2 separate regions of the Homo sapiens genome follow, and region 2 is linked to region 1. Evidence: fine-mapped expression QTL. A gene starts in region 1. The other region holds a variant in brackets. All regions are shown on one strand. Distances are between the middles of the regions. Region 1 holds the start of FAM107B (family with sequence similarity 107 member B). Region 2 holds the start of LOC105376429 (a long non-coding RNA gene).

What was found. PIP is the estimated chance that this variant, and not a neighbour inherited with it, causes the effect.
Region 2: its variant is fine-mapped to the expression of FAM107B in monocytes (BLUEPRINT, PIP 0.95).

The regions. Positions count from the first base shown.
Region 1 is chr10:14,768,726-14,784,437 of GRCh38, forward strand. It overlaps FAM107B (family with sequence similarity 107 member B), which reads right to left and starts at 6,172. Exons shown (of 5, transcript NM_031453.4): 1 at 5,528-6,172. The coding sequence starts at 5,938.
Region 2 is chr10:14,649,824-14,665,535 of GRCh38, forward strand. All of the region lies in intron 2 of FAM107B (family with sequence similarity 107 member B), which reads right to left. It overlaps LOC105376429 (a long non-coding RNA gene), which reads left to right and starts at 2,924. Exons shown (of 5, transcript XR_930691.4): 1 at 2,924-3,010; 2 at 4,011-4,143; 3 at 5,207-5,342; 4 at 6,346-6,401; 5 at 10,113-10,758. It also overlaps the pseudogene RNA5SP302. RefSeq lists enhancers at 1-41, 10,224-10,313. The variant C/A (reference allele first, on the strand shown) is at 8,453.

The DNA of each region.
Region 1 (15,712 bases):
TCCATGCTTTCCAACAAATTTTTGGTTATCATTTCGCTTTACTGGTGATTTTCCAATGGGGAGAATACGTGGCTCAGTCAGCGCAACCCTACCCATTAGTGCTCAAAGCTTACAACTAAATGAGCATTCTGACTTACGCATCAGGCTCTTGTAAACTATCTCTCACCTCATCTTCCTGCTGTCCCTATTAGGTTTATTACCATGGCCTTGATGCTCCAACCTTCCTGACTCTAATCCATCCTACACCTACCCATGACTTTGCCCCTGCTAAGTGGACAGTAACTACAGATGTTGTCCCCACTGTGTGTTATTGGTTCTATTCTAACACACAGTGCTTGCCTTGAGCCCCTGTGTCCCATGTGTCACTAAAACAGGAAGATAAAATCAAATTGACCCTGCTGTATCCAGCAACACAGGGAGTCTCTATTCTCTCAGAGAAAGCCGACTGACAAAACTGTGTTTGGAGACAGCAGTGCTGAGGCTCAGACGCTCAGTAACCACCAGAGCCTGTGAATCTTCAGGCCACTGCTGGGGTGCTAGGATGGCTTGGTTACCACTTCTCTGCCCAGTTGCTAAACCAACCTGTTCCAAAAATCAATGAAGTTGTCAATTCCAAGATGGGCCCTGTTTCCCTTCACTTTTGTACAACTGACATTTTTGTTTTTCTTTTCTTTTTTTAGACGGAGTCTCATTCTGTCACCCAAGCTGGATTGCAGTGGTGCAATCTCGGCTCACTGCAACCTCAGCCTCCAGGGTTCAAGCAATTCTTGTGCCTCAGTCTCCCAAGTAGCTGGGATTACGGGCGCCCGCCACCACGACCAGCTAATTTTTTGTATTTTTAGTAGAGACGGGGTTTCACGATGTTGGCCAGGCTGGTCTTGAACTCCTGACTTCGTGATTCACCCCTCACTCAGCCTCCCAAAGTGTTTGGATTACAGGCGTGAGCCACCGCGCCCGGCCACAATTGGCTCTTTATTTAAAAACCCCAGAAATGATTTCCCAAACTACAATTACTATCTCTTCCTATGTGAGGCTGGCTACTCCCAGTTCAAGTACAAGCTAGATGGAACTTACAACTGCTATAGGAAGACATTCTCAAACTACCAAACTACTCTGAAACTTTTAGTTGCTTAGTGTGTGAACTCTCCCTTTCTCACACTGCGTACATCACTGGGAGAGAGAGGAGTGAAACAGCACCATTCAACTTGGCTGGGTGCAGTGTTAAGTTGGATTCGCAATTAGAACAGAAAAAGATCGAAGCCCCTGTATTCTAGTCTTCCCCTGTCTTCTTCCCAAGGCTGAACATGGAGTGCCGTCCTGTGTTTGTATTCCATCCGGTGCTGAGCCATAAGCCCTCTCATACTGCATTGATTCTGCCTGTTTACCCAATGGAACTTCCCACTAGAACATCAGCAACCTCACAGATTGAGTCACAATCATCAGTGTTTCCCCAGGGCTAATGCTATCCTCACATGGAGGAAGAGCATAATAACTACTGACTAAAAAAATAAACAGCAGACCTGGCGCGGTGGCTCACACCTGTAATCCCAGCACTTCGGGAGGCCAAGGCGGGTGGATCATGAGGTCAGGAATTCGAGATCAGGCTGGCCAACATGGTGAAAACCCATCTCTACTAAAAATACAAAAATTAGCCAGGCGTGGTGGCTGGCGCCTGTAATCCCAGCTACTTGGGATGCTGAGGCAGGAGAATTACTTGAACACGGGAGGCAGAAGTTGCAGTGAGCCGAGATCGCACCACTACACTCCAGTCTGGGTGATGGAGCAAGACTCTGCCTCAAAAAAATAAAAATAAAAATAAAATAAAATAAACAGCAGTACTGCTGAATTTCGTTGAGTCTACAATTCCATCAATGATATGACACTTCAACTACAAGACCACTAAGAAGGGGAAAAGTTATCATTAAGAGGTACTAACAATTATAAGACACATTCCCATTTTAGGGTTGTTATCACTTTGGTTTCAGGTCTGGAACAGAAAAGAGATGAATACAAAAAGTTGAAGACTGATCAATAGCATTTCTTCAATACAGACATGTGCGCTCATCACTAAACCAAACAAAAATGTTTCATATTTGCTTAGTTTGTTTAGCTTCATTACCTCAAGCTTTCTCTCTTGAACCAGATATTGTTTCCAATATAAATGAGCCACCCTCCTGTCTGAACATCAGGTAACTGAAGATAGAGAGAGGGGCTTGTCCCCATTTCTTACCTTATGTCTGAGGCTGAACTAAAAAAAAAAAAAAAAAAAAAAAAAAAAAGATTATTTGTGGCCTCTACAGAGGCAGCTTAAATAATGAGGATCAGTGCATCCAAAAGGGAAATATTTTTCCGCCAGGCAAGATTGTAATAAAAGCATCTCATTCATCATCTGCTAAGGGAAAACATGCCATTGCAAAGTCACTTGGTAATGAAAAATCTGGGCAGTTCTAAGCCACTTTTAATCAGAAGATCTCAAAGCAATCCCCCACACTGCCAGCGGCAAAGCTTTGTCACTCACAGGATGCAAAATGGACATCTTCTGTGGTGTTATATACCATGAAGCTATGGTAGAAAAGGGTAAAGCATATGAATAAAAACAAATAATAATAGTTATTGAATATCATTAAGAGGAGTTGGTTACTGGATACAAAAGTACAGTTAGAAGGAACAAATTCGAGTATTCGATAGTACGGTGGAGAAGTTATAGTTAACAATAATTTATTGTGTATTTCAAAATAGCTAGAAGACAGGAATTGTAATGTTCTCAACACAGGGAAAAGGTAAGTGTTTGAGGTGGTAGATATCCCAGTTACCCTGATTTAATTACACATTTATACATGTATACATACCCCAAAAAATATACAACTGTGATATATCAATTAAAATAACAACAAATAAAAATAAATTAAAAAACAAATAATAATTATATCGACATCAACATATAAATACATGGAATTAATTTATTCATTTTTGTAGAGATGAACCTTCGTTATGTTGCCCAGGCTGGTCTCAAACTTCTGGTCTCAAGTGATTCTCCCTCCTTGGCTTTCCAAAGCTCTGGGTGACAGGCATGAGCCACTATGCCCAGCCAATATGTATGATATTTAAATGTGATTGAGTATCAAGCGAGATCACATATGAATAGTTGATCCTAAATCCTCAAACACTACACAATTAATTAGTAGTAGAAGCACATTATAATTCAGAGGATGGACTTTGGAGTCAAACAGAAGTGGGTTCCAGTCCTGTCTCTGCCACATCCTCTCTTTGTGGCCTTGGGCAAATGTCTTACCCTCTTTAAGCATCCATGCCCTCCTCTGTAACATGGGCACCATAAGAATATGCACTGGCCGGGCATGGTGGCTCACTCCTGTAATCCCAGCACTTTGGGAGGCTGGGCGGGGGAGTCATGAGGACAGGAGATCGAGACCATCCTGGCTAACACGGTGAAATCCCATCTCTACTGAAAATACAAAAACTTAGCTGGGCCTGGTGGCAGGCACCTGTAGTCCCAGCCACTCGTGGGGCTGAGGCAGGAGAATTGCTTGAACCTGGGAGGCAGAGGCTGCAGTGAGCCAAGATCGTGCCACTGCACTCCAGCCTGGGAGACAGAGCAAGACTCCATCTTAAAAAAAAAATATATATATATATATATGCACCTCACTGTCACCAGGGTTGGCTGAGATACTCTGTGTAAAGCACTTAGAATAAGGGCTAGCGAACTACAAGTGCTCTGCACAGCTTAGCTCTCGGTGTTTGAACTAGAATAGATGCCCATTTACCCACATCAGGCCCTCTTCCTGCACCTCCTGGCACTTGATTTCAGTGTTTGCATTGCATCACTGCTTCCCTCCCTGCCTGGTTTGGACCGCACAGTCAACTGCCGCGTGTCCTGCCTCATGGAGCCCCTCCCACTTTATCTCCCTGTTGTTCCTGTCTGGATTGTTACAATGTCCTCTCTGCTCCGGGCTTCCCAACTGTAATCCATCCTACGCTGTGGACCACCCATGGCTTTGCTCCTGCCAAGTGGACACTAAACATGGATGTGGCCCCATTTTGTGTTATTGGTTCTATTTGAATTCACATGCTTGCCTTGAGTCCCTGAGTCCCATGTGCAACTAAAACAGAAAGATAAAATCAAAGTAACCCTTTGTTCTTGCGGCTGTCTTCAGTAATATAAGGTGGGTCTGCATTGCTCAACAGAAAGTCTTCCGGTTCATTAAAACTGTACATCATTGGTACCATAAATATCCAACAAATATCAACTTGGCCATGAATTCTAATCAGCTACCTATAATACTACCAAAAATATCTTAATCTGGATGTGGCTATACACTGAAAATTTTGGTTTTTGCTGGTTGGTTATGGGCTTTGGTTTAGTGGTGCTAGAAAAAAACATAGCAGTTTTTGCTGTGACAGAGGATATGGTAAAACTCTCTGTCCAATTTCAGAATGCAGACGACAGACCCAAGCTTCAGTCATTTCATATAAACCTGCAGGGTGTCAAATGAAACTATTTTTTAAATGATGTTTTAACCCTATCTTTGCTGGTTGGCTGTGTTCTTGCTAAGGAGGCTTCTTAGATTCTGTGAAGCAAGCCAGACCAAAAAATAATTTGTTAAACGGATGTGGAAAAATGATTTAAAAAATCAGAATACTTTAGTGATGGATCCCCAAAGACTTCTCAGTTTTTTAAGTCTGGTCCTAAGCTACTTGGCTAGGAAATGACCAAAAATGGTCAAGAGATATCTTTGGAGTGTACCTTTTAGAAAACCTTTCCTCTACACTGCATCTGCAAACTGGGATTACCGGGAACTTTGAAATAATTGTACAGCTCCATCTAATCAGAATACTCAACAATTAAAATTCACTGATGCCAAAAATGGAAAGAAAATAAGTAAATAACTCTTAAGAGCAGTGGCACCATTTTTTTTAAATAACTTCCTCCTCCTGCCTTCAACTCTCAGAAGATTATCACAAAAACATCCATATTATGAATAGTTTTATAGGTCAGTTCCCTTCCGTACCACTAGGCATACACTGATGATCATTTCCAAATTTTTCCAGACTGCTTTGATATCATGTGATTCATTTTAAGTAGAGGCAGTTTTGTGAATTCCCTAGCCAAACTTTTTAGATTGTGGATTTTCATATAAATAAATTGACAGACCGGTGGGGGTGGAGGGGGAAATAGAAAAAGGAAAAAAATGTTTTTGTAAACTATCTTACTCCTAATCTGTTATTGAGTGAGCCATTTTTGGCTCTAAGGCACCCTAGCCCGTTAATTCAAGGTTACCTTCGGTCATTGCCATGGCTCCAGTGCTTATTATCATTGCCTCATCCACATCTTTTGAGAACACTCTGAGAATCTACACGGCTTTAACACACTTCTTCGCACTAGTGAGAACGCCCGCAATGCCTTATTCAGTAAGGTTAAATGAGTTTGTTTGCTGAAACATTCGCCACATGATCCCAACGCTCCTCCAGCTCCATCCCGTCTATAATCGCAGAGCGAACACTCACTCACCTTGGGCGTGTCAATAATTGATGGTCTGGGGATGGAAGCGTGAAACACCACTGCTTCACAGTCCGCCCCATCATCCAGGGACCCGGGCACATCTTCAGGCGTCTCCGCGGGCTGGGCCGCAGTGCGGTGACTTGAATTCCGATTCGCACTGCCATTTCTCTCTGCATGGGTGCTCGAATCTTGCCTTTTCTCTGGAGCTCCTTCTGCGCTTGGGTGTCTTGGCTGTCTGCCTGCTTTGGCCACAGGCTGCACACGGACGGTGGAATGAGTATCAGCCACGCCGGACTGATTGAAGGAAGCACTCTCCCTCGTATTCCCAAAACAGGCGAGCAGAGCTGAGCACGGAAATGGATGCATGCTTCTAGAGGGAGACTTCAGTCTTTTGGTGAGTCTTGCTTTCCACGTGGACATGACTTGCAGTGAATCATTGCAAAGTTCAAACGGGGCAAGGAAATTTTCCAGGGGTCCACATCACCTCCACTTTGCTTATAGGAACTCTTTCCAATTGCCCGAAGAGAAGAACTTGCTAGTGGTTGCCCCTAAATAGAAGTTGGGATGGCAAGGCCACCTTCCCTGAGAGTCACTTAGCCGCTGGGGCCCCTTTGAAAGTGTCCATCCTGGGCAATTTCGCGCTCTTCCTTCTGTGATGCTGTCAGTGGCTAAAGAAAGCTGTTGGGGAGGCATGTGAGTGGCTCCGGTTACAGTTCCTAGGCAGGGCAGACGCTTCAGGGTAGGGTAGTGCCAAGTCAATAGACAATTGCTTCAGGTTACCTAGGAGGCATAAAGATAATGTAGCCTGATAGCATCTGCCATAATAGCGTCAGCCTGCGTATCAATAACATCATAACAGCAGCAAAACCTTCTTTGGTTACCCCCCTTCAAATATTTATTCCCCCAAACAAAACAAAAACGACCCAGTTGTCCATCACAAATGAAGACCCCTAGAAGGGCCACGACCCTAGCAGCTGTTTCATTATTAAAATAGGAGGTAGACTCAATCTTTCGCCTGGAGAGATGCGGTGTGATGTGTTTTCTGAATCTTTCTGGACTTTTCGGGATCTTTCCGGAATCTTCCCGGAATCTTCCCCCCACCCTCAAAACAAGTTTCCTGGTTTCAGGATCCACATTGCCTTTTCTGATAACTATAAATAGGTCTTTGGTAATTTGATTTTTTTTTTTTTACTAGCTAGGCTAAGTTCTTGATTAGTTTTCAACAATACCAAAAAGAAAAAAGAGAGCCCTACATTAACAATTATCCTTATGTATTATGTTATTATGTGTGGAGGTATTATGTACATGTGAAGTATTCTACCTATATGGTATATATCACCTACTTTCAGAAAGTAACTCCTTTTTGAACATAGATCTTCTGTTTCTCAACACATTAATATGTGAATGGTGAAAAATAATAAATTATAAACATATTCTAAGACAATTCAGAATCAAGATTTTTCCTTAGCCAACTGTCTGCTAGGAATGTTATAGAAATGTAATACTGTAATGCTTTTACCGTTAATAGTGATTTTAGGGTCAAGATTTCTGGGCATGTTACCCACTCTTAATTAATTTGTTTGCTCTCTCTTTTAATTTAATGTCAAGATGTGCTCTTTGGCCCAGACAGGTGGTAGTTATTATATTATGGCACTGATTCCCGTTTTACAGAGGCAGAAACCAATTCTTTGAAATTTCATGTGACTAAGGCAAGTTTATGCCACTAAGAAGGGCTTGTTGGGTGCCCGAGATCCCTGTTCTCCTATCTGTCCTCTGAGTCTCATTCTATCTAACAATCATTTTATAGATGTAATGGCCATACGGGAAATATTGTTCTAAATGGACAGTCATATTCATAATACAAAAAGGCAGATATGGCTTTAGAATGAGTGGATATGGCATCAAATGCACATTTTATTTTAGTCTCTACTGAAAGTTAGAATATAGAAAGCTTCCATTTATTTAGAGGTTACCGTGTGGCAGGCCCCGTGCTATCCAAGCTGTTTCTGGCTTCCCAGGGTTGTGAGCTCATTCTTTTTTCATTGTGTCCCAAGTGCAAGCTGTCCAAATTCCCCACCCATAAGAAATCAGGGGGTTCAGGTTTCTACCAGGGTCCCCCCTCCCAGATATTCCTGGAGACCCCTCGGAACTGCACTTTGTCTCCCATTTGACTTGGTTGCTACAGTCCACTCGGGTCGGGTCGTGCCATGCTGTGCCCCTCCAAGCACACGTATAGTAAATCGGGGCTGTGATGCTGCATAAGACATTTTTGAAGGCTTGGAGGTAACAGGAAGGGATTTAAGAAAAGAAAAATGCACTCTTACACCTGGTTTCATTCACTCATTCATATATTCATTCAATTATGTGTCAAGCCCCTTTTGGAACAGAGAGTCAGCAGTTCACAGTGCAGCTTGCGAGCGGCCACATTCAGGAGACCGCTGAGGAAGAAAGCTCAGAGCCACTTTCTAGGTCTGCGGAGGCCCTGGGCTTGCATCCGGGCTCTGAGGACCACCTCTCCTCGCTCAGTGGGTGTGCTCAGAGGCACGCATGAACTCATCGGAGTTCCAGCACTGGCCCGCTAAGAACAGTAGACTTTCTGATTAGTGTGTTGCTAAGTCTGACCTAGAATAACACTCAGTAACAGGCCATGGTTATTGAGTGTTTGGTATCAGACATGAATCTCAGCAAATTAACTCATTTAATCCTCACAACCCTAGAAGAAAGGTGATATTATTATTCCCATTTTTACTCATTAGAAAACCAAGACACAGAAACTTAAGTAACTTGCCCAAGGTCACAGCACTGCTTAAGGAAATGAGAAAAGGTGATGAGTCCAGCAACCTGGCCCCAGAGCTCATACTTTTCTCAGTATGCAATCCTGCTTTCCAAAAACACACATGCACGTGCACACACACAGATACATACTCCAGAGAGGACATTTCCAATGACCTTGATCCAACACTCTACCTCTAAGAAGTTATTTTGTAATGACGATCTTTAAAAAGTCAGGAAACAACAGATGCTGGAGAGGATGTGGAGAAATAGGAACACTTTTACACTGTTGGTGGGAGTGTAAATTAGTTCAACCATTGTGAAAGACAGTGTAGAGATTCCTCAAGGATCTAGAACTAGAAATACCATTTGACCCAGCCATCCCATTACTGGGTATATACCCAAAGGATTATAAATCATGCTACTATAAAGGCACATGCACACGTATGTTTATTGTGGCACTATTCACAATAGCAAAGACTTGGAACCAACCCATATGTCCACCAACAATAGACTGGATAAAGAAAATGTGGCACATATATACCATGGAATACTATGCAGCCATAAAAAAGGATGAGTTCATGTCCTTTACATGGACATGGGTAAAGCTGGAAACCATCATTCTCAGCAAAATATCACAAGGACAGAAAACCAAACACCGTATGCTCTCACTCATAAGTGGGAGTTGAACAATGAGAACACATGGACACAGGGAGGGGAACATCACATAGCAGGGCCTGTCAGGGGGTGGGGGCTGAGGGAGGGATAGCATCAGGAGAAATACCTAACGTAAATGACGAGCTGATGGGTGCAGCAAACCAACACGGCACATGTATACCTATGTAACAAACCTGCACGTTGTGCACATGTACCCTAGAACTTAAGGTATAATAATTTTTTTAAAAAAGAATTTATTCTGTAGATATACTTGTGCATAAATGTATGTCCCAGAATGTTCGCAGCACCAGAGTTTGTAATCACAAAATTAATTGTTAATCAATAGAAGACAAGTTCATATATAAGAAAACATCTGGCTGGGCGTGATGGCTCATGCCTGTAATCCCAACACTTTGGGAGGCCTAGGTGGGAGGGCCCTTTGAGGCCAGGAGAGTTCAAGGCCCGTCTGGGCAACATAGTGAGCCACCGTGTCTACAAAAAAAAAGTTTTAAAAATCAGTTGGGCATGGTGGTGAGTGTCTTAAGTCCCAGCTACTTGAGAGGCTGAAGTGGGAGGATCGCTTGAGCCCAGGAGGTGGAGGTTGCAGTGAACCGAGATTGCCCCACTGCACTCCAGAGCCTGGGTGGCAGCCCCTCGCAAGCTGCACTGTGAACAGCTGATTCTCTCCAGAAGGGGCTTGGCACATAATTGAATGAATAAATGAATGAGTGAATGAAATCAGGTGTAAGAATGGATTTTTCTTTTCTTAAATCCCTTCCTGTGACCTCCAAGCCTTCAAAAATGTCTTGTGCACCATCATATTTTAAGACTCTGTCTTAAAAATAAAAAATTTAAAAAACGCAAAGAGATCACAAAGCATCACAAGACATATGAGAAGAACTGTTACCGGAAAGGAGTGGGGTACTGATCCAGACCCCAAGGGAGGGTTCTTGGATCTTGCACAAGAGTTCGGGGCAAGTCCACAGAGAAAAGTGAAAGCAAGTTTATTAAGAAAGTCGAGGACTGAAAGAACGGCTGCTCCACAGGCAGAGCAGGGCACTCCTGAAAGCAAGAGGAGGAAACACCTTAGGTGCAATGCTTGTTCATATTATATATAAGCCCAAAATCATGAGGGAGATGTACTCTGCTACAGGGGCTTATGACAAACAGTTGTTAACCTTGGTGTAACTACTGTCTTCTGCAAGAATCTGTATTATTATTTTTAAAGAAAAACTTACTCTTAAACCAAGAATGTTTTTGTTCTTAAGATATCGGGACATCAGGACATTTCCTGGATCTGTTATTTCCCGGGTCTGTTAAGTCCTGAATCTCTTCAGTGAACTTTATTAACTTGTTCCCTTAACTGTAAATATCCTGTTGACTAAGAATGCCTCACCTCCTGGGAATCCAGCCCAGCAGGTGTCAGCCTCATTTTACCCAGTCGCTTTCGAACCAAAGTGACTCCATCTTGAATAGGGGCTGAGTAAAATGAGGCTGAGACCTGCTGGGCTGCATTCCCACTGCATCTTGAACAGTACTGCCTATGACAGAACTGCAATATAAATGACAACACCCAAGGTAAACAAAAGAAAAGATCCTAGCCAGGAAGAAAGAGGGAATGGCAGTTGGACAGGCAACAGGGTCTGTCACTCAGAGGATGGTGCAGGTGTACCGTAAGTCACAATGCAGATTGATTCTGAGCAAAGATCCTGGGGGAGTGTAAGAGGGAAAGAATCTTAGCAGCTTGATACCAGCAACATTCTTGTTGAGTGTCACATGACACGGATCCTAGAGAATTTTAAAACATTAACTCACTCTGCCCTAAAAAACTGTTTACATAGTCGTAATCATATAAATGCCGTCCAATTTTCTCAACTTTCAGAAGGAATATACAGGCCAACAGTTGCATATGATGGCTCTCAAAAACAATTTGGCCTCCAGACAGATTTTGTTTGGCTCATGACATTTTTTAAAAATGACTGCACAGCTCTTAGGCCACAGGAACCATTCTTCTCTGTATCTCTCATTAGGTCAGTTCCCAAATTTCTGCAAACAGGACCCCGACGACATTTGAGTTTAATGCCTCAGGTGGGTAATTTCTTATTGTAGGGTACCCAGCATTCTCTCCCTTTTCTTTTGGTAACAGCATCCTGATTTCCTCTTTGGAAACCCCTTCAGTGCTTTAGGTGAGGCTTTAGGCCTGGTTCCAGGGGAGGAACCTGAGATCAGGGTCAGGTAATCAGCCTGCCCTTATTCCCTGTTCAGGGACTGGAGTGAGAACACATGGTTCCAATCAGAATAAATCCCCAAACGGGCTGGACACAGTGGCTTACGCCTGTAATCCCAGCAGTTTGGGAGGCCAAAGCTGGCAGATCACGAGGTCAGGAGTTTGAGACCAGTCTGACCAACATGGTGAAACCCCATCTCTACTAAAAATACAAAAATTAGCTGGGCATGGTGGCGCATGCCTGTAATCCCAGCTACTCAAGAGGCTGAGGTGGGAGAATCATTTGAACCCTGGAGGCAGAGGTTGCAGTGAGCCAAGACCCGCCATTGCACTCCAGCCTGGATGACAGAGTGAGACTCCGTTAAAAAAAAAAATCCCCAAACAGGACTACTTGGAAGAAACTTTCTCTTCTTCCCATTGGATTTACTGGACTTAAACCTGAGAAAGGGAAGGGAAAAGCAGCTGCCAATATCTTGACTCCTTGGGGGACACTCACCCAGGCTGCAGCCAACACAAAGAAGAATGTAAGAGCTGGAGAAAGAGAACCTGGGTCCTGATAACATTTTTGAATGAATCTTTACCTGAGGCTGAAGCTATCCCTACATATTGCTGCTTGTGTTGTAAAGCAAATAAATTTATTTTCCTGCTTCACCGGCTTCAAGTTGAGTTTTCTGTCACTTTCTACTAAATGAGTCCTAATCAATATATCACTCAGGTGTACCAGCAAATCATGGAAACCTTCACCATGGTTGCAGAAGAGAATGAAAATTTTATCAACTTGACAGTGGCAAAATAAAGGGAAAGCTGAAAGATTTTGAACGATAGGAAGGTTGTTATGGAGGGGGTGATATGAGCAAAGGGAAGGTTGAGTTTGCTAATATTCTTATATTTCAAAGTCAAACGATGCTTCCTATGGTTGATACAAAAAGCAATCAAGTTTTAAGTGTGGTGTTTGATGTTGCAGAAGTGACAAGGGGAAAACTGGAAATAAAGATGGAACAGTGTTGGGAGGAGATGGGGTGTAGTAAGTAGCTAAACGCTCATCTATCTTATTAGAAAATCAATAGATAATGTCTAAAGTTGACAGATAAATAGAGGCATAAGCATATTAGTTAGTGGGAGAGATATCCATCTATCATAGAAAAATGTCAATAAATAATATTTTAAGTCAATGAATTAAGAAACAGAAATATAAACATATGATTTATATTACGGTGCTATCTATCAAAAAAAAAACTAAAGACAAACAGTTATAAGCAGTTGCCTTTAAGGAAGAAGAATGGAAATGAGGCAGAAGATGATTCCTTCTATTATAAACTCTTACGTATGTTTTATATTTAAATCATATAGAAGTATTACTTAATAGAATTTTTTTAATTTAAAAGGAATAAAGTCAACTTACATGGGGCAATATGAAAAATTGCCAGGAAATACTTTGAATGACAAAAGCAAATTGAAAAGTTAAGCACATGTGGATATCTAAAAATATACCCATATAAATATATACATGTATGTGCTTACTTTTATGTAGAAAAGCTTCAGAGGAATGTCCAAGAAGTCTTCTGCCTCCGGAGAGGGGACACTAAAGGTCTGATTTGGGAGGAAGATGCTTTTCATGGTATACCCTGTTGTACTGTTTGAATTTTGTTAACCATGTGCAAATACTAACTTTTCTATTAGAAAAAAATAGCATGGAAACATCCCAAGGTGACAAGGCACCAACATGCTCAGTTCTAGGTGAGGTCTCAGATGAAAATCAAGCATGTGGCACCAATGATCTCTCCAAAGGGGAGACCAGCAGAGCGGATCTCAGCCATTCAGTGCCTCCATCAGGATGCCTTAAGAAGATTTGTCATTTTCCATAGAGAGCGCATAGAGAAAGCACTATCACTGGGGCCCATGTCTTCAAACATCATTGATTGAGAACTCACTGCAGAGCAGGTTCTGAGTCAGGTGCTACTTGGAGTGAAATAAGCCAGGATCCTGCTCTCTTGGAGCCCAAAGGGCAGTAGAGCACATGAGTGAGTGTGGTGAGTGCAGTGAGGAAACCCGCTGGCTCCTGGAAATAAGATAATGACCCAAGTCAGGAAGCCCGGCTGATCTTGCATCCCCTTGTTTCCTGAGTCTCACTTTCTCTGTGGGGATCCCGCTAATCGCTTCTGCCACAGTGGCCTCGGGAGGCACTGCCCTCTGCCTTAAAAATCCAGCCCAAGAAAAGGGACACAACTGCCCCTTCTGCACAATTCAGCGGATAATCATCTTTGGTGCATGACCAGACTTTGCTGATTACAAAAGGCAATTATGCCTCTCTAAAAAAAAGTTTTCTTTTTGACTGTTTGCTGGGTAACATCATTGTCGGTGCCCCAAAGCCCCCAGGTTATTTGTCGCAGGGTCTTCCGGGGCTTCCGGTCTGCCGAGTTCCTGTTCAGCATCTGGGTAGCATGGACTGTCTTACCCCTGTCAAGCCCATCTAGATAGGCCGGGCGCGGTGGCTCACGCCTGTAATCCCAGCACTTTGGGAGGCCGAGGCGGGCGGATCACAAGGTCAGGAGATAGAGACCATCCTGGCTAACACAGTGAAAACCCGTCTCTACCAAAAATACAAAAAAAAAAAAAAAAAAAAAAAAATTAGCCGGGCATGGTGGCATATGCCTGTAGTCCCAGCTACTCGGGAGGCTGAGGCAGGAGAATCACTTGAACCTGGGAGGCGGAGCTTGCAGTGAGCCGAGATCGTGCTATTGGACTCCAGCCTGGGCGACAGAGTGAGACTCCGTCTCAAAAAAAAAAAAAAAAAAAGGCTCATCTAGATTCCTTAGAATCTAGGCTTAAGCGATAAGGCCCTGGGTTCCCTCGCTCTCCTAAGAGCCACCTTGCTAGTCATTTCCTGCCCCAAGATGATTAATGCTGAGAACATCCTCTGCCCTAAGGGAAGACCGACCTTTGCTCCCAGGCCTTAGCCTTGGTACCAGCAGGACAGCACGCACAACGGAGTTCAGGAGTCCCACATCAGTCCCTGAAAGTAACAGGAAGCATCATTTCTTTCTCAGTGTGGAGGAAGGAAGGTCACCTAACCAAGACAGGAGGGGCAGAGGAAGGGGCAGGAAACAGATCTGGGGTATAAGACCCAGAAACACAGCAGTGGTTGTAGATAAGGCCAGGATCAGTGCCATTGTCTGATTTCACATCCTCTCCCTTCCCCTATATTTACACTCATGCACTGCGTAACAATGTTTCAGTGAACAAGGGCCCGCATACATGGCAGTGGTCCCATAAGATAATAATACTGTATTTTAGGTTTCGATACACAAATACTTACTTGTGTTAAAACTGCCTGTAGTATTCAGTATAGTCACATGCTGTCCAGGTTTGTAGCCTAGGAGCAATGGGCTATACCCTATACCCCAGGTGTGCTGTGGACTCTACCATCCATGCGATATTTGTACAGTGAAATTGCCTAATTTTACGTCTTTCAGAATGTATCCCTGTCGTTAACCAGCACATGACTATATTTTTAAATCAAAGTGAACTTAAAATGGGGATTCACTTCCATTTTTTTGGTAAGGATTTTTTTTTTTTTTTTTTTTGAGATGGAGTCTGGCTCTGTCACCCAGGCTGGAGTGCAGTGGCACAATCTCGGCTCACTGCAACCTCTGCCTCCTGGGTTCAAGCGATCCCCTGCCTCAGCCTCCCATGTAGGTGGAATTACAGGCACCCGCCACCATGCCTGGCTAATTTTTGCATTTTTAGTAGAGACAGGGTTTTGCCATGTTGACCAGGCTGGTCTCGAACTCCTGACCTCAGGTGATCTACCCACCTCAGCCTCCCAAAGTGCTGGGATTACAGGCATGAGCCACCACACCCAGCCTTTGGTAAGAATTTCTCCAACATTTCTGAGGTCAGTGAAAATGCCCTAATTGTGTTGCAAAACTAGATTTGACTGTCATCGGGTTTGCCTGGAAGCAAGACTGCCCTGCCTTCACAATCTGGAATTCTCTTTACTCCTCTTTTTAATCCTCACACTGAATTCCCAGCTGATTACAAAATTATCTTCCTTCAGGAAAAAGAAATCAAAAGCTTTTCTGCTTTCTACCCAAAAGTACCGCTGAAATGTAAAGGGCTGGTGAATCAGGTAGCCTAAGAAAAATACACCTTTCCTGTCTGATGCTCAGCAATGCCCCAAGCTTCAGGACTCTACTGACATCATTATCACTTCTTTTTTTTTTTTTTTTTTTTTTTTTTTGAGGCAGAATCTTGCTTTTTTGCCCAGGCTGGAGTACAGTAGCACACTTTTGGCTCACTGCAACCTCCGCCTTCCAGGCTCAAGCAATTCTCCTGCCTCAGCCTCCTGAGTAGCTGGGATTACAGGTGCCCACCATCACGCCCAGCTAATTTTTGTATTTTTATTAGAGATGGGGTTTCACCATGTTGGCCAAGCTGGTTTTGAACTCCTGTCCTCAAATGATCTGCCTGCCTCAGCCTCCCAAAGTGCTGGGATTACAGGTGTGAGCCACCATGCCCGGCCATAGACATCATTATCA
Region 2 (15,712 bases), 120 kb before region 1:
TCTCTTCAAATTTTTTATAGAGTTTGACTCTTTTCATTGGCACATTGTTTGACCATTACACATAATAAGGGCCAGTGGGCACTCAGTGCAGAGTTAGTATTGCTGCTCTTCAGTCATCAGAGATGCAGGCATGTCCTGTGCGTTTCCTCCAGTATCCTTAACACATGGTTTCATCTCTTGGGTCAACACCTGGTCCGAGGTGGCTGCCATAGTATCCTGTCAATGTCCCAGATAGGAAGAAGGAGGAAGGACGTGCTCCCTGGAGGAAGCTTTCCAGAAGCCCCACTTTTGTCAATGCTACATTTGAGGTCTTCCTAGCAAAAGCATGAAAGCCTCTTCACCTGCATTATTGTTTTGGGTTGTAAAATCAGTCTTATTCGCATACAGTTTTTTTTTTTCATTAGGAAGGTTATATAAGCTCATTACAGAAAATTTGGAAAATAAACGAATTCATTCTTAACTCTGATTTTTTTTTTCTTTTGCCATTGAGATGGAGTCTTGCTCTGTCACCCAGGCTGGAGTGCAGGAGTGCAGTGGCATGATGATCTGCCTCCCAGCTTCAAGCAATTCTCCCACCTCAGCTTCCCTAGTAGCTGGGATTACAGGTACCCACCACCATGCCTGGCTCATTTTTGTATTTTAAGTAGAGATGGGGTTTCACCATGTTGGCCAGGCTGGTCTCGAACTCCCGACCTGAGGTAATCCTCCCACCCTGGCCTCCCAAAGTGCTGGGATTACAGGCATGAGCCACCGCGCCCGGCCTCTCGATACTTATTTAAGAGTAACAAATACTTATTGCTTACGTATTGTGCTACGTATTGAGCATTCTGGTTTAGTTCCTCCATTCCATAAAACTATGCATCAGTTGTTGTGTTCTGTACTTACAGTTATGGTAAACATTTTTATATCCTACTTCTTTCTACACAGCATTAAATCATTAGCTTTCTTTCTATTTTGTTATATCACTAAATTTCAAGAAGTCGTATATGCTCATAGTAAAAGTAAAAATAATATTTTTTAAAAACTCAACCATATTCCCTTGCTCTTATGCTTACAATGCACTCTACTCCAATTTTAGGATAAGTTCAGCGTTAAGTGTTAATGATAGTGAAGGAAACTTCTAGCGTCTGAGCTACATCCCAGAGTTCCCCAGTAGGATGAAACTCCAGTCACCAAAAATGATACTCTTCCTAATAAGCAATGCTTTATTGGCCTCTTTCTACTACTGACGCTTCCTGAGACAACCTCCAAATTAAGCAAGCTGTACTAGAATCCTTGTCTCAGGGTCTACTTCTGGGGGAACCAAATTAAGACACCACTTGACAACTTTAGCTAGTATATCATTGGCCAGCCCTATCTATAAGGAGCCTGGGAAATATTGTTTTAGAGCTTGGGCTATAACTGCACTTGACAATATTAGGATTCTCTGGCTAAAGAATATGAATATTGGATAAACATCTGGCCATCTCTGCCATGTGTGGATAAGATATATCCACACATGGCTGGGCGCAGTGGCTCACGCCTATAATCCCAGCACTTTGGGAGGCTGAGGCGGGCAGATCACCTGAGGTCGGGAGTTCGAGGCCAGCCTGACCAACATGGAGAGACCCCGTCACTACTAAAAATACAAAATGAGCCAGGCGTGGTGGTGCATGCCTGTAATCCCAGCTACTTAGGAGGCTGAGGCAAAATTGCTTGAACCTGGGAAGCAGAGGTTGCAGTGAGCTGGGATCGCGCCATTGCACTCCAGCCTGTGCAACAAGAGTGAAACCCCGTCTCAAAAAACAAAACAAAACAGATATATCCACACATAACCGTAAATTATGAGCCATAAGAAGGGGACTGGGGAGATTACTTTTTTGTAGGTACTTAATGACTTCCTTGAGACTGTAGAATTTGACTTGCACCCTCAAGGCTAGGTGGGATTTTAATAGGCGAATAGATAATCTGACGGTGTGTAGGGTTTATAAGAACAGGTAAAGCCTGGACACAGAAAGACAAGTTAGGAGATGATGAAAATGGTTTGGGTGTAAGAGAATAATAACCCAAACCAGAGTGTGATACCAAGACTGGAAAATTAGGAATATGTGTGAGAAATACAGCAAAGGAACTCAATAAGATTCATACAGAGGTGAAGTGGAAAGAAGGAATCCAACATGACCTTGAAGCTTGAAGCCAGGATGGAGGGTAGCACCATAAACAGAAGTTGTACAGTCGGAGAGAAGGGCCAAGTTCGAGGGATGTTTGTTGTCTTTGATTCTACCAGAGTTAAACATAATGTTTTGATGGAGTGAAGTCAGATCTAAAACATAGATATTCAACTTCAAATGTTAAAAAAAAAAAGCAGTGACTCTTATTTCTATACTTCATCTCAATCAAAGCATGACTTTCTATGCACATGGAAAATTCCATGAGCTCACCCTCCTGCAGAGCTCCTTCCTGACAGAAACCAGGAGGGTTAGGCTTTCTAAAGAGCACCAGATCCCAGATCCCTGCTGATAAACTCACTAAGTCAGAAAGATACAAAATCAACCCTCTCACTATAGAGAGAAATTCTCAACTCTGTCCAGATACGTATTGGTTTTTGCAGAGCTGCGGAAATAACGAAAATATAGGGGTTTGGACTCAACCAGGCCTGGACTGAGTCCTGGCTCCAGCTCTTTCTTGCCATGCAACCTTGGTTAAATTAACTTTTAAAGCTTGAGTTTTCTTACCTGCAAAGGGGAGAAAATATAGTACTACTTTCTAGGGCTGTTAAGAGAATTAAGTAAAAAATCCATGTAAAGCACTTAGCATGGCACGTTATGCATTGTTCTAAGTGTTCTAAGAACACTACTTAGAAAATGTTAGCATTGTTATTGCTATAGTATCAAGGGTAGCGTGGATACCAGACGTTTTGTGTTCAGTTGTGAGAAAAGACTATTTAAGGTAATACGCTCCTGAATGTGCTAAAATCAAATACCGCAGCTGGACCAGATTAACTCAGGACACCACCAGTGGACTAGAATTGGTAGGAAACTGAGAAAGTTATAGTCATCCGAAGGAGTTAATGCAATTATCCATTTTCTTTAAGCCCTTTCAGGTTGTTGGGAGAAACCACATACTGTGAGCCCACTTGCAGCATAGCAGTCATGAAACGAATTCAGGCACAGAAAAAAATGTGATGCATGGACTTCTAGAAACATGGCCATCAGGGTTGAGCGTCATAACTGGCCTTGGCTGAACACAAAACCAAGAAGGCAAAACTCGCAATCCCTGAGTAGAGAGAAGGCTCCATAAATGTTGAATGAACACATGGACAAATTACACTTGTGACCTAATGGTCCACTGCCACGGTATTTACAATTAAGGCCAAATACTAGAATCAGGCCTTTGCAAAATGTGCCCTGACTTTTTGAGTCTTAGAACTGTTCTGTTTCCATGGCTCAGAAAAAGCCAAGGGCAGTTTGTTCTTTTTATCAGTTTCTCCTTGGAGAAGAAAGCTGAAAATTTCCATGATTACCATGCACACTGGAGTTATGCTGATCGAAATCTATCTAAAAGGTGCCAGGCACACAGCCAGGCGGGCAAATGCTCTCAAAGGCAATTTCACATCACCAGCCTTGCTGAGCAAGAACAGAAGCTGTTCTTCACTCCAGCCTCTCAGGAGCACACAGTGGCCTCTCAGTTCCCCTTTCAAGGAAGAGCTCTGGGAGAAAAGCCCATGGTTCGGGAACTTTTCCTGAGACCTCTAAGCACCTGTGCCATCATGGTGCAAGCTAGAACTGTTATTTCTAGCTGTGCAGCCACAGTCATCCATGTGGTTCCATTTCCTTGGTGGCAATGCACAGTTGCAAAATATTTTGTAATTATTCATTACTGAAATCACAAAAATGCCCCTAAAAAGTATAGTATTAGCCTCTTATACACAGTAAAATGTAACCGCGGGAAACTTCAGGGAATTGTGTAAAGATCACTGGGTGAGGTAACGCCCACAAGCTTGAGGCTAGTGTTTTCTCCTGTTTCCATAGCAATGACCCCACACGATCTTACCTGCTCCTCAGACCACAGCCAAGGAAGAGATTTCTGACAAACAAGCAAAAACACAACACTGTCCACACAACTGTAAATATGCAAGGAAGAGTTTCTTCTTGCCTGAAAACTGTAAGGTTTATTATTTGTTTGTGTTTCTTCCTTTCATCTCATATTTCTTCTAACGTCATAAGCCTGGCATTTAAACCCCAAATGCCTGCAGGGGCCAGGCAGGATAGGGAGGTACCAGCTAAAAAGGCAACTCCAGTTGATTTTTTTTTTTTTTCCACTGCTTAGGAATGCAGGCCTGGTTTGGCTAGTTCTTACAATTTCTCAAGAGAAATTGGAACCTAGATTTTTACATGAAATTTTCCAGTTTTTAAACATTGGCAACCAATTTTCAAAAAATTTGCAAGCCACAAAAACACATCTACAGCTGAGTTTGCTCTGGTTGTAACATCAGTCATAAGCAGTTGAAATAACCTTTCGGGTCTTCAGAATTACTTCCTATTTTCTGAATATCTGTGTGGAATATAGACCGCATATTAACCCTAATTATTAATTACAGCTATGCATTAATTCATTAATGAAAGCCATAATTCATTGGAGAAAGGTCTTTAGTAACATATTGCTGTTGCGTTTTATTATCTCTTGCTCTCATCATCTCTCTGTGGTGAAGGATAAGAAATCAGAGGTGATCTTAGCTAGTTTCGTTTAAGACTCTTAGCTGTTGTTTAAGGCTCAAAACAAAATATCTGATTATGTATTCCATTTTGCACAGAAACAAACAGCATTTAATCCAAATATTTTGGCCCACATAGGGTAATTCAAAAATAAATGATTTTATGATTTAAGTCCATTCTTACGCTCAAATAAGCATGTTCAAGTTGAGTTGAAATACACCAGTAACTAAGTAGATATGCTTTGCGATAGTCAACTTCAAGGTGAAAAAATCCCGTTCCCTTTTACTAATCATTAAAATCATTAAATGCCCCTCAGTGGATGCATAGAACACTGTGTTCAGAAAAGGTCAGAGAACTGTGTTCAGAAAAGGAATTTTAAGAAGCTTGAGAATGCTACCATTTTAACCAGTCTGTGGGGTAGTGTCTCAGTTCATTCTGCATTGCTATAAAGAAATACCTGAGGCTGGGTAATTCATAAAGGAAAGAGGTTGATTTGACTCATGGTTCTGCAGGCTGTACAAGCATGGCACCAGCATCTGAGGCAAAAGGGGAGCTGGCATGTGCAGAGATTACATGGCAAGAGAGGATGCAAGAGAGAGAGAACGAGGTGCCAGATTCTTTAACCGTCAGATCTCATGGGAAATAAGGGTGAGAGCTCCGTCAATCCATCAAGATTGACACTAAGCCATTCATGAAGAAGGATCTGCACTTATGACCAAAACACCTCCCTTTAGTCCCCACCTCCAACACTGGGGATCAAATTTCAACATGAGATTTGGAGGGGACAAATATCCAAACCATAGCAGTAGTAAGTAGTCAAAGAAGATAGTTTGCATTTAGTGTTTTAATTATTTTTGATAGGGTTTTCTTTTCTTTTTTTTCTATCTCAGCCTCACAAATATTTTGTTTTGTTTTGTTTTGTGACGGAGTCTTGCTCTGTCGCCTAGGCTGGAGCGCAGTGGCGCAATCTTGGCCCACTGCAACCTCCGCCTCCCAGGTTCAAGCGATTCTCCTGCCTCAGCCTCCCGAGTAGCTGGCACAAACGTTTTAAAATATGTTATGGTTGTGTTCAACACAGTGACTGTGCCAAGGGACCCTCTCTTAGTTCAGGTTCCCTTAGAAGTAGACCCTGAGGCAGGGATTCAGGGAGAAGCAGTTCATATGTGAAGGGAACAGGAGGAGAGGTGGGAAGCCGGGACAGGGGAGGGAAAGCAGCCACCACAGGATTTATGCAGCTGGCTACTCCTGTAGGGACTGAGGCTTAACCCTCCTGGGGATCCCTGGGAGCCAGCTCCACAGCTACCTACCCTAGGGAAAGTGAGCTGCAGTATTTATTCACAAAGTCTGATCAGGGATTGGGTGACAATTACTCCTCAGGGGCTTGAGGCAGGTTCTGGGGTGAGAGGAAGCCTTTACAGAGAGGCATGCAGGTGCCAGAAGTGGGGTCACAGGCACTGAAGTGAAGGGCAAGGGGAGAGGGGCTGGGTGCTGAGTGTCGGCCATGCACTCCAACTTCATCAGCTCCTCCTCCCCATCGCTGATATAAACAATTGATATTTTCTCATCTTCCATAAAGCGCTGTGCAGGAACGACTTTAGGACAAGTCCTTTAATGTCTTTTCAACCTGTTCTGGCCCCTGTGCTCCTCCTAGATACAAATTCTGGAGCAGCAACTGATTTACCAGGAAACACTGAGGAGTAGAGCAAGGTAAGGTGGCTCCTACACCACTCCGAACCAGTGTGGGGCATGGGGGCGATAAAGAGGCTGACTTCACAGGGAACTTCCAGGGCCAAAATTTCACTTCATTTGAAGGTTTTCAGGAAAACATGGGTAAATTGCAAAAGCAACGCCAACAATTACCATCTTTGAGATTTGAAAACTTTGGATTTTCTCTCTTGGGAGGCTTTGTGACCACCAGTTGAAATTTCTAGATGACAATTTCCACCTTCCATGTCATCAGAATGGAAGGAGAGGTGCACTCCAAGGAGACAAGTGACTGGACATTCGGGTTCCTGGCATGCAATACAAGTTCTTCTTTTTATACCAATGTGGGGGAAGGAAGTGAGAAGTAAGAAGTGGGTAGAGAGATTCCTCCAGGATGCAAACAGTTAAAGATCATCACTTTACTTCTGATTTTGGATGTTAATGTCACCTTCAGAATTCCTCCTTCTCTAAGAAATTTTTACAAAGGGCCAACATTAAATTTTAAACAAACAAATAAGAAAATAGTAAAAGAAAGTGAAAGAGTGTAGAAACGCAGCTTGCAGCACACACAAAAAATTAGGCAATTCTGCTTCAATTTGTGCACACTGAAAATTTCATTCCTGGTAACCGGTAACTGGTTCACCTTACAACCTGGGCAAACTTCTGGAAAGTTCCATGCCTCCATTCCCACTGTGTTAAGAGGACATAGGATTGGATGGAGAAGAATAGGTCATACTAACTAGACTACTGAGGTGTCCCATGGGCATGTGAGCACAATGTCAAGGCTAAACAGCTTGCTGCACAGGTGCAGCTCAGCTCCTCTTTAAGGCACATGTGCCCAGTCCATCAACACCACATCAGGCTCACCTTGAATACAGAGGACTAAATCAAACCCTCATTTTAGGTATTTTTGTATTTTCCCATTTATGAACAATAAATGATCTGTTAAATTTCCTAAACAGAAAAATCTGGAAGCAATTTGCTCTCTGCCCATGTAGAGAGGGGAAAGCACAGACTGCTCTCCAATGACTCTGAGGAGGATGAATGACAGGGTTTCCAAACCCTGAGTGGTAACACCACTTAACAGATTCGGCCTAGGAGGGTGCTTTGTACTTGGAAATCCTATCTCATTAGCCTGACACCTTCTCAAGGCAAAATGGCAGAGGACTGGACACAGATTGGCACATCTTGAAATAGGCAGGCCAGGAAGTCTCGTTCACTTCAGACTAGGAGCATACCATTGCTGGCCTTACCCTCCCAAAGACAGACACCTCCAGCCCCAAATCTTCACCCCCACCCCTGGTCACCAGAGAAACATCTCCTTGGATTCCAGGGCAATTTCCACAGACTTAGCATGTGGAAATAAATCTAGAACCTAGATGGAAAACCAACCAACTTTCTCCTACTTACACTTAATAATGCAAGATTTATAAATGAGTTCTAGAAACATTTTCTCTTTGTTAATATATATTACAGCCCGTGGCCTCTTGTTCACTGGTGTTTTAAGTTCTTGGAACAGGGATTGTATGACTTTCATGTCTATGTTCTTCTAATAAACCTCCAGCAACAAGCATGTTGCCACCTTCACTTTTTTTTTTCCTTTTTTTTGAGGCTGGTCTCACTCTGTCGCCCAGTCTGGAGTGCAGTGGCGCGATCCCAGCTCACTGCAGCCTTGGCAGCCCAGACTCAAGAGATCCTCCCACCTCAGCCTCCCAAGTAGCTGGGACTGCAGTCACACACCACCACACCCGGCTAATGTTTTCTCTTTTTTTGTAGGTTGGGGTTTTGTCATGTTGCTCAAGCTGGTCTCCAACTCCTGGGCTCAAGCAATCCACCCACTTCGGCCCCCCAAAGTGCTGGGATTACAGGCGTAATTAGCACCTGGCTAACCTTCATTTCTTGGGAAGAATTTATACGACAGTGAAAATCCAATTACTATTATTTGAAATAGAGACAAAATGTTGAGATTCTTTAGACTAAAATACAAGCTATGATAGTTGAGTCCCATAAAAGAGTTTAGAGGTCAGGTCTTCACTGAAAGTCATCATCTACAA[C/A]CCCCAGGAGCATTTCCCCTAAGAAAAGACTTCCTGTGACCCCACAGACTGTCCTACGGTTAAGGGAACAGAAAGAAAGTAAACTCAGGACAAAGGAAGTCTATTTAGCATCTTGAAGGCAAGACCCATGTCTGACCCATGTCTGACTCATCTTTGACTCTCCGTGGATTAGCATGGTTTGCTTTATATGTGTTAAGTACCCAAATAAACAACAGTTTTTACATCAAAAGTCACGTTGTAAACCAGACTCAATCATTCATTCATGCATGCATACTTTAGTCAAACAACCATTACTTTTCAGTTCCTACATAGTCCAAGAATTGTGCGAGGAGCTGGGGGCAGAAAACAAAGAGAAAAAGACGCAATTCCAGTTTCTGACTCATCTGCTTCACTTGATTTAGCCAAAAGGCCAAGAAGTGATTGATTCATCTACTTGCTTCAGCAAGTTTAAAAAGAGCAAGGGTTCATTCCCCATTTAATAAATATTCACTGAGTGCCTCCTATATGTCAGGCTCCATCCTAGGCATTCATTATGTTTGCAGCAGGACAAAAAATGGTCAAACATCCCTGCCTTCATGATGCTTACCTTCTAGAAGGGGACGACAGACAAAAAGCAAGTGAATTATATAATGTGTGGATAGTGACAAGTGGTTTCAAAAACCAAAACAAACAAGGAAGTAAGAGTTGAAGGAAAGGTTGCAGTTTTGCAGAAAGTGGTCAAGGAAGCTCTCACTGAAAACAAAGACCCAACAGAAGGAGCTGTGCAGACCAAAAAGTCCCATAAAGAGTCTGGGGACCAGGTCTTCACTAAAAGTCCTCTACTATCCCCAGTAGCATTTTCCGTAATTAAAGGCCTCCCATGAACCCTCAAACTGTCTGCCCTGGCTGGGCACGGTGGCTCACACCTGTAATCCTAGCACTTTGGGAGGCTGAGGTGGGTGGATCACCTAAGGTCAGGAGTTTGAGACCAGCCTCACCAACATGGCAAAACCCCGTCTCTACTGAAAATACAAAAATTAGCTGGGCATGGTGGCGCGCACCTGTAGTCTCAGCTCCTCCGGAGGCTGAGGCAGGAGAATTGCTGGTGGGGAGGGGGCAGAGGTTGCAGTGAGCTGAGATTGCCCCACTTCACTCCAGCCTAGGTGAAAGAGCAAAACTCCGTCTCAAAACAAAACAAAACAAAACAAAACAAGCAAACAAAAAACTGTCTGCCCTAAGGTTAAGGGAATGGAAAGAAAGCAAACTCAGGATAAGTTTCCCTTCTTTTTTTCTCACCTTCCTACCTCAACTGTTTTCTGTTCATCTGTGGCCAAAGACTCAGAAAAATCTGTATGGAAGATAAACAACTCTTGCACAAAATCAGAGGGGTGTGTGACTGAGATATAGTGGGTTCTGGTGGAAACTGCACTGTTGACTGTTCTCCCACGACATGAAAGTAAAAGCAGACACTTTGTCTGAATTGTCAGAAAATGGGTCTCGTTTTGTCACCTCCTAAGATGCCCAGCAAGGAGATCTGAACTCCAAGTGTCATGGACCTTCCCGCAGAGGGGCTGGCCTTATGTGCGCAGCAACAAGGAACTGCTCAGTGGAACCCCAGTCTCACTTCCCCACAGAAGTTACAAAAATACTTATTTTTTTTTCTCATTTCATCCATTTTTAGGTAAAGAATTTTAACTGTTTGGGGTTCGTTACTTCACACTTAAGAAATCTACAAACCACAGGAAATGAAACTTGACTAAATGCAGATGACACAGACAGCCAACTCCGAAAATGTGCTGGGCTCCACTCAGTTCTAGGTGACCTTTAGCAAAAAGAGGGTGTTCTGATGAAACCCTTTGACCATAACCAACAGCCTCCAACTTACAGGATTCTCCCCTCGTATGACCAAGTGGTGTAATCTTTGAGGTCCTGGCAGCACAGGTTGAGTGCAACCTAAAAGAGAATGAGGATTCCACAAGGTCTTCTGGAATGGTACACTTATTGGAAACTTGTTTCAGCATTCAAAAAAACCTGGCCTGTTTCTAAAGCAATGCATGGTTTAAGAGGAATGGCAAATTGAAGCCAACGTTTTTCAAACACATTTCACTTAAAAAAAAATGGCCACTAGAAAGAATGCAACTTATTTTCAAAAAGAATTATCTCAAGAAAGCATGGTTGGCCCATTCATCCATCTCCCTGCCCACAAGGGAATGAATGAATGAAGACAAGATGTGCCACCTCTGAAAGACTGTTAATCTCCCTCTCTCTATAAAAGTGGTACTATGTAATTTCTACTCATTTGGTTACAAATAAAATTAGTAAGTGAAGGATCCGTAGTTTCTGTATGTCACCTACAAACCTGAGTCTTTGTGCTAAAATTGTTCAAATATTCAATTGAATCTTATTCAATACCAATGCTTTTGTATATTGCATGTGGTATATGTGCATGGTGCTTGGCTTATTCTGAGAGCCATTTGGTGGAATAAGAAGAGAGTAAATGAAGCCTCATTCTAGAACTTTCTTTCTAAAGTAAAAAGGCAGAGCAACCCATAGAAGGCTCTAGAAAAGGAACACATACCATGGAAAGGAAAAAGGAAAGAGATGCTACCCAGGTCATGAGGTTTGGATTTGTGTCCTTCCCCAAACCTCATGTCAAATTGTAACCCCCAATGTTGGAGGAGGGGCCTGGCAGGAGGTGACTGGATCATGTGAGTGGATTTTCCCCTGTTCTTGTGATAGTGAGCTCTCACTAGATCTGGTTGTTTAAAAGTATGTAGCACCTTCCACTTCGCCCTCTTCCTCCTTCTCCAGCCATGTAGGACCTGCCTACTTCCCCTTCACCTTCTGCCACAACTGTAAGTTTCCCAAGGCCTCCCCAGCCACGCTTCCTGTACAGCCTGCAGAACTGTGTTCCAATTAAACCTCTTTTCTTTATAAATTATCCCGTCTCAGGTAGTTCTTTACAGCAATGCAAGAACGGACTAATTTACCAGAAAAGTGTGATGGTTGATTCTCTGTGTCAAATTGACTGCGCTAAGGGGTGCCCAGATTAAACATTATTTCTGGATGTGTCCAAGACAGTGTGTCCAGATGAGTTGAACATCTAAATCAGTAAACTCAGTGAAGCTGATCACCCTCCCCAGTGTAGGTGGCCATTACCCAATCTGTGGAGGGTCTGAATAGAACAAAAGGGGAAAGGGGGAGGAATTCTCTCCTTCTTCTTTCTGTGTGACTGATTGAGCTGGGACATCAGTCTTCCCTGCCCTTGTTCCAGAACTGACACCATTGGCTCTCCTGGTTCTCAGGCCTTTGGACTTGGACTAGAATTTCACCACTGGGGCTCTTGGATCTCGAGTCTGTAGAGGGCAGATCGTGGGATTTTTCAGCCTCCAAAATCATGTGAGCCAATTCCTCATAATAAATCTCCTTCTATATCTATGTCCCAGTGGTTCTGTTTCTCTGGAGAACTCTGACTAGTTCAGGAAGAGAATGATTTTGGTTTGGCAGCTGCTGAGAAATGAGGCATAAGCCCAGGTGAGAACAGGTAAACCAGTGACTATCCCTGTCCTCAGCAACTTCGAATAACTGGCTCACCCTCAGAGAGTCACATAGTGAGGCTTCAATTTGTGCCTTCTCGCTGACATGCAGTTCTCTCTGTCTGTGGCATTGTGGCCTTTCCCTTGTCACTATTAGTAAAGGATCTTTGTTTTAGTCTCTATTATCAGAACAGCATCCTGACCACATCATAGGAACTCTTAAGTATGGAAAATTTTCCTCTGCAGAGTCTCCACCCAATGTATCACCATTACCTCATTCTTCCTTCTCCCTATGTGGAGTTATAAACATAGCCCAGGTTCAGTTTTTTACATGTTCTTTATTTTTGCATTGAATATTATATAGAAGGGATTGCAACGCATCTTTAAAATGGCACCTTGCAATAAAGAACCTCACCTCACTTTTAAATAGACATAATCCCTGCTTTTGGGGAGCACACAGTCGAACGGAGTCTTCATTGACTGCTCCCATCATTCAGGGCCTTCTATGCTCAGGTGGAGAAAGTGACCAACCACGCTGTGTAACTGCTGCTGGAGGCAATTCTCCCTTCATCTGACCTCTGACCTGTCTTTTTTTTTTTTTTTGGAGACAGGGTCTCGCTCTCTCACCCAGGCTGGAGTGCAGTGGCACAATCATGGCTCATTGCAGCTTCGACCACCTGGGCTCAAGTGATCCTCCCATATCAGCCTCCCCAGTAGCTGGGACCACAGGCATGCACCACCATGCCCAGCTAATTTTTTAATTTTTTTGTAGAGACTGGGTCTCACCATGATGCCCAGGTTGATCTCTGTCCTTCTTTACCTGTTTGTTGATGTTTAAAATCCCTTTCATAACCAACACATCTTCTCATTTCATAAGTAGATCTGAGGCTTAACATACCAATAGGCTGAGAGAGGTGACACAGTGCACCAATGTGTATGTGCCTGAGTGCATGCCCTTCTGATGATAGAGAAACTGGGAAGCGAAGGTGTAGAGGAGGGAACCCCACTGTGATGGTTAATATTGAGTGTCAACTTGATTGGATTGAAGGATGCAAAGTATTGTTTCTGGGTGTGTTGGTGAGGGGGTTGCCAACGGAGATTAACGTTTGAGTCAGTGGATTAGGAGAGGCAGACCCACCCTCAATCTGGGTGGGTACCATCTAGTCAGCTGCCAGCATGGCTAGAATAAAAGCAGGAAGAAGAAAGAGGAAAGAGTAGACTTGCTGAGTCTTCCGGTCTTCATCTTTCCCCCATGCTGGATGCTTCCTGCCCTTGAACATTAGACTCAAAGTTCTTCAGCTTTTGGACTCTTGGCCTTACACCAGTGGTTTGCCAGGGGCTCCCAGGCCTTCGGCCACAGACTGAAGGCTGCACTGTCGGCTTCCCTACTTTTGAGATTTTGGGTTTGGACTGGCTTCCTTGTTCCTCAGCTTGCAGAAGGTCTATTGTGGGACCTCACCTTGTGATCATGTGAGTCTATACTCCTCAATAAATTCCCCTTCATATATGCATCTATTCTATTAGTTCTGTCCCTCTAGAGAACTCGACTAATACACTCACTGAGGAGGCTTGGAACATAGAAAGTGCAGGTGTGAAAAGAAGGTAAACTTCGTCTCCCCCATCCAAGTACTAACCAGGCCCAACCCTGCTTAGCTTCCGAGATCTGATGAGATTGGGTGCGTTCAGGGTGGTATGGTCGTAGACGGTAAACTTCATCTCCCTGCAGAATCTGCCCAGCACTTCTCTTGCTGAAATGGGGTACCCATTGACAGCAAACCACAATGCATCACATTAAAAGGAAGTTCTTATAAATGGGCTAATGTATCCATGAAGCTAGTATATCCACAAAGTGACAAGGAAATGCTACCTGATTCCGGGAAAGGCACTAAGGTTCCATCTTTCAATCACCTACTAAGAAAGGCCTCCAATGTATACAGACACAATTATCTGAGGGCAGAAGACAGTAACAATGGTGGTAAGGACAGAGCACACTCCTAACTCGTCTGTCATTATCACGTGGGTGGCTCCTACGAATATGAATACAAATTATAGAACTCAGGATGAAGTGTCAGATGCCCAAGAATTAGATCATCAGCCAAAAAAAAAAAAAAAAAAAAAAAAAATGGGCTGAACTCCAAGCAAGTATCACTTGGAATCCAATTTACAGTATTTGGGTTTTGCTTTATAAACACCCTGGCTGACGTGTCTCCCTTCACAAATGAATTTCATCTCTGTCCTTCAAGGCCCAGCTCTTATGGTGCATTCTCTTGAAAAACTTCCTGGATTCCTCCAGCTGGGTTTCTTTCACCTCCTTAGTGCTCCCTGGCCCCCTACTTATGTCTCTGTTTCAGCACATGCTGTATTCTACCTTTTCTCCTAGCTCTCTGTGTTCATGTTTTAAAGGCTCTATTTGACTGAAGCTCTGTGAAGGCAAGACTTCCATAGTATCCTGCTTTCTCTAAAACTTACATTTTACTATTTAAAGGCTACCATTTCTCTATAACTCACATTTTATTTGTCTAATGGCTGTATTTCTCACTTTCCATACATTCCATGAGGGATGGAGTCAAGTCTGTCGTATTTACCACTCTAAATACAGTCATGTGCCATGTAACAATGTTTTGGTTAACAGCAAACCACATATACAACAGTGGACCCATAAGAGTATACTACTGTATTTTTTACTGTACCTCTTTTATGGTGAGATATGTTTAGATACACAAATACTTACCACTGTGTTATAATTGCCTACAATATCCAGTGTAATAACATGCCATACAGGTTTGTAGCCTAGAAGCAATAGGCTACATCATATAGCCTCAGTGTGTAGTAGGTTATACCATCTAGGTTTGTGTAAGTGCCCTCTATGATGTTCACACAATGACAAAATTGCCTAGTGACACATTTCTCAGAATGTATCCTCCTCCTCATTCTCAGATTCTTCACTATATAGCATAATTCCTATTACAATATCTAGCACATAGTAGACATTCAGTAAAAGTTTTTTGAATGAATATAGTATATGTTCATACTTTTCAAATAATTTAGCAGACACAACTTACACCTAACAGGATTTTAAAGAATGGTTAATCAATATGGGAGATCTGGATAGAATGAACTACAACTAGAAACACAAGTACACCCAAAGCAAGATGCAATGCAAAGACACACATTTAGGAATAAATCCTGAATAAAGAAGAGGAGCTCTATAGCAAGCCCCAAAGTCTGCGGACCCAAGCATTTTTAAGAAATAATGAGAAACTGCATTTTCTGCTTGAAATTTCCAGTTAGACAACAGCATTTTTAGGTGTTTTTGAAGAAGGGAAAGTAATAAGCCTTTTATTGTGTCAATAATGTAAAACCATACCTGCTGATCACAGATAAATTGGGATTCTAAATGTCTACCTACACTTCATTTGCTCTTTTCTGCAGATTTATTTTGAGGGAGGTGTCCAACTCCAAATGCATTTATTGAGGGAAATCTTTACCACTTTGCTGAATCTCTAGTAACACATACTGAGGGCCTAAGGAGCTGGGAACCCTAGCAGAATTTTTCAGAATGGGATGTCTAATTTCTCACCCTGAGGTGTCATAAAAGAACTCAGTAAAGTCATCTCATTTCTTAGCAAGTCTTTAGTGAGTAATGATGTCCTCCCAACGTGTGTGAACAAATGTTCTCAGAACATAGTGGGCACTATGCCAAGAGAGCAAATAAAAGCATTTATAACAGCAGCTGGGAAATTCA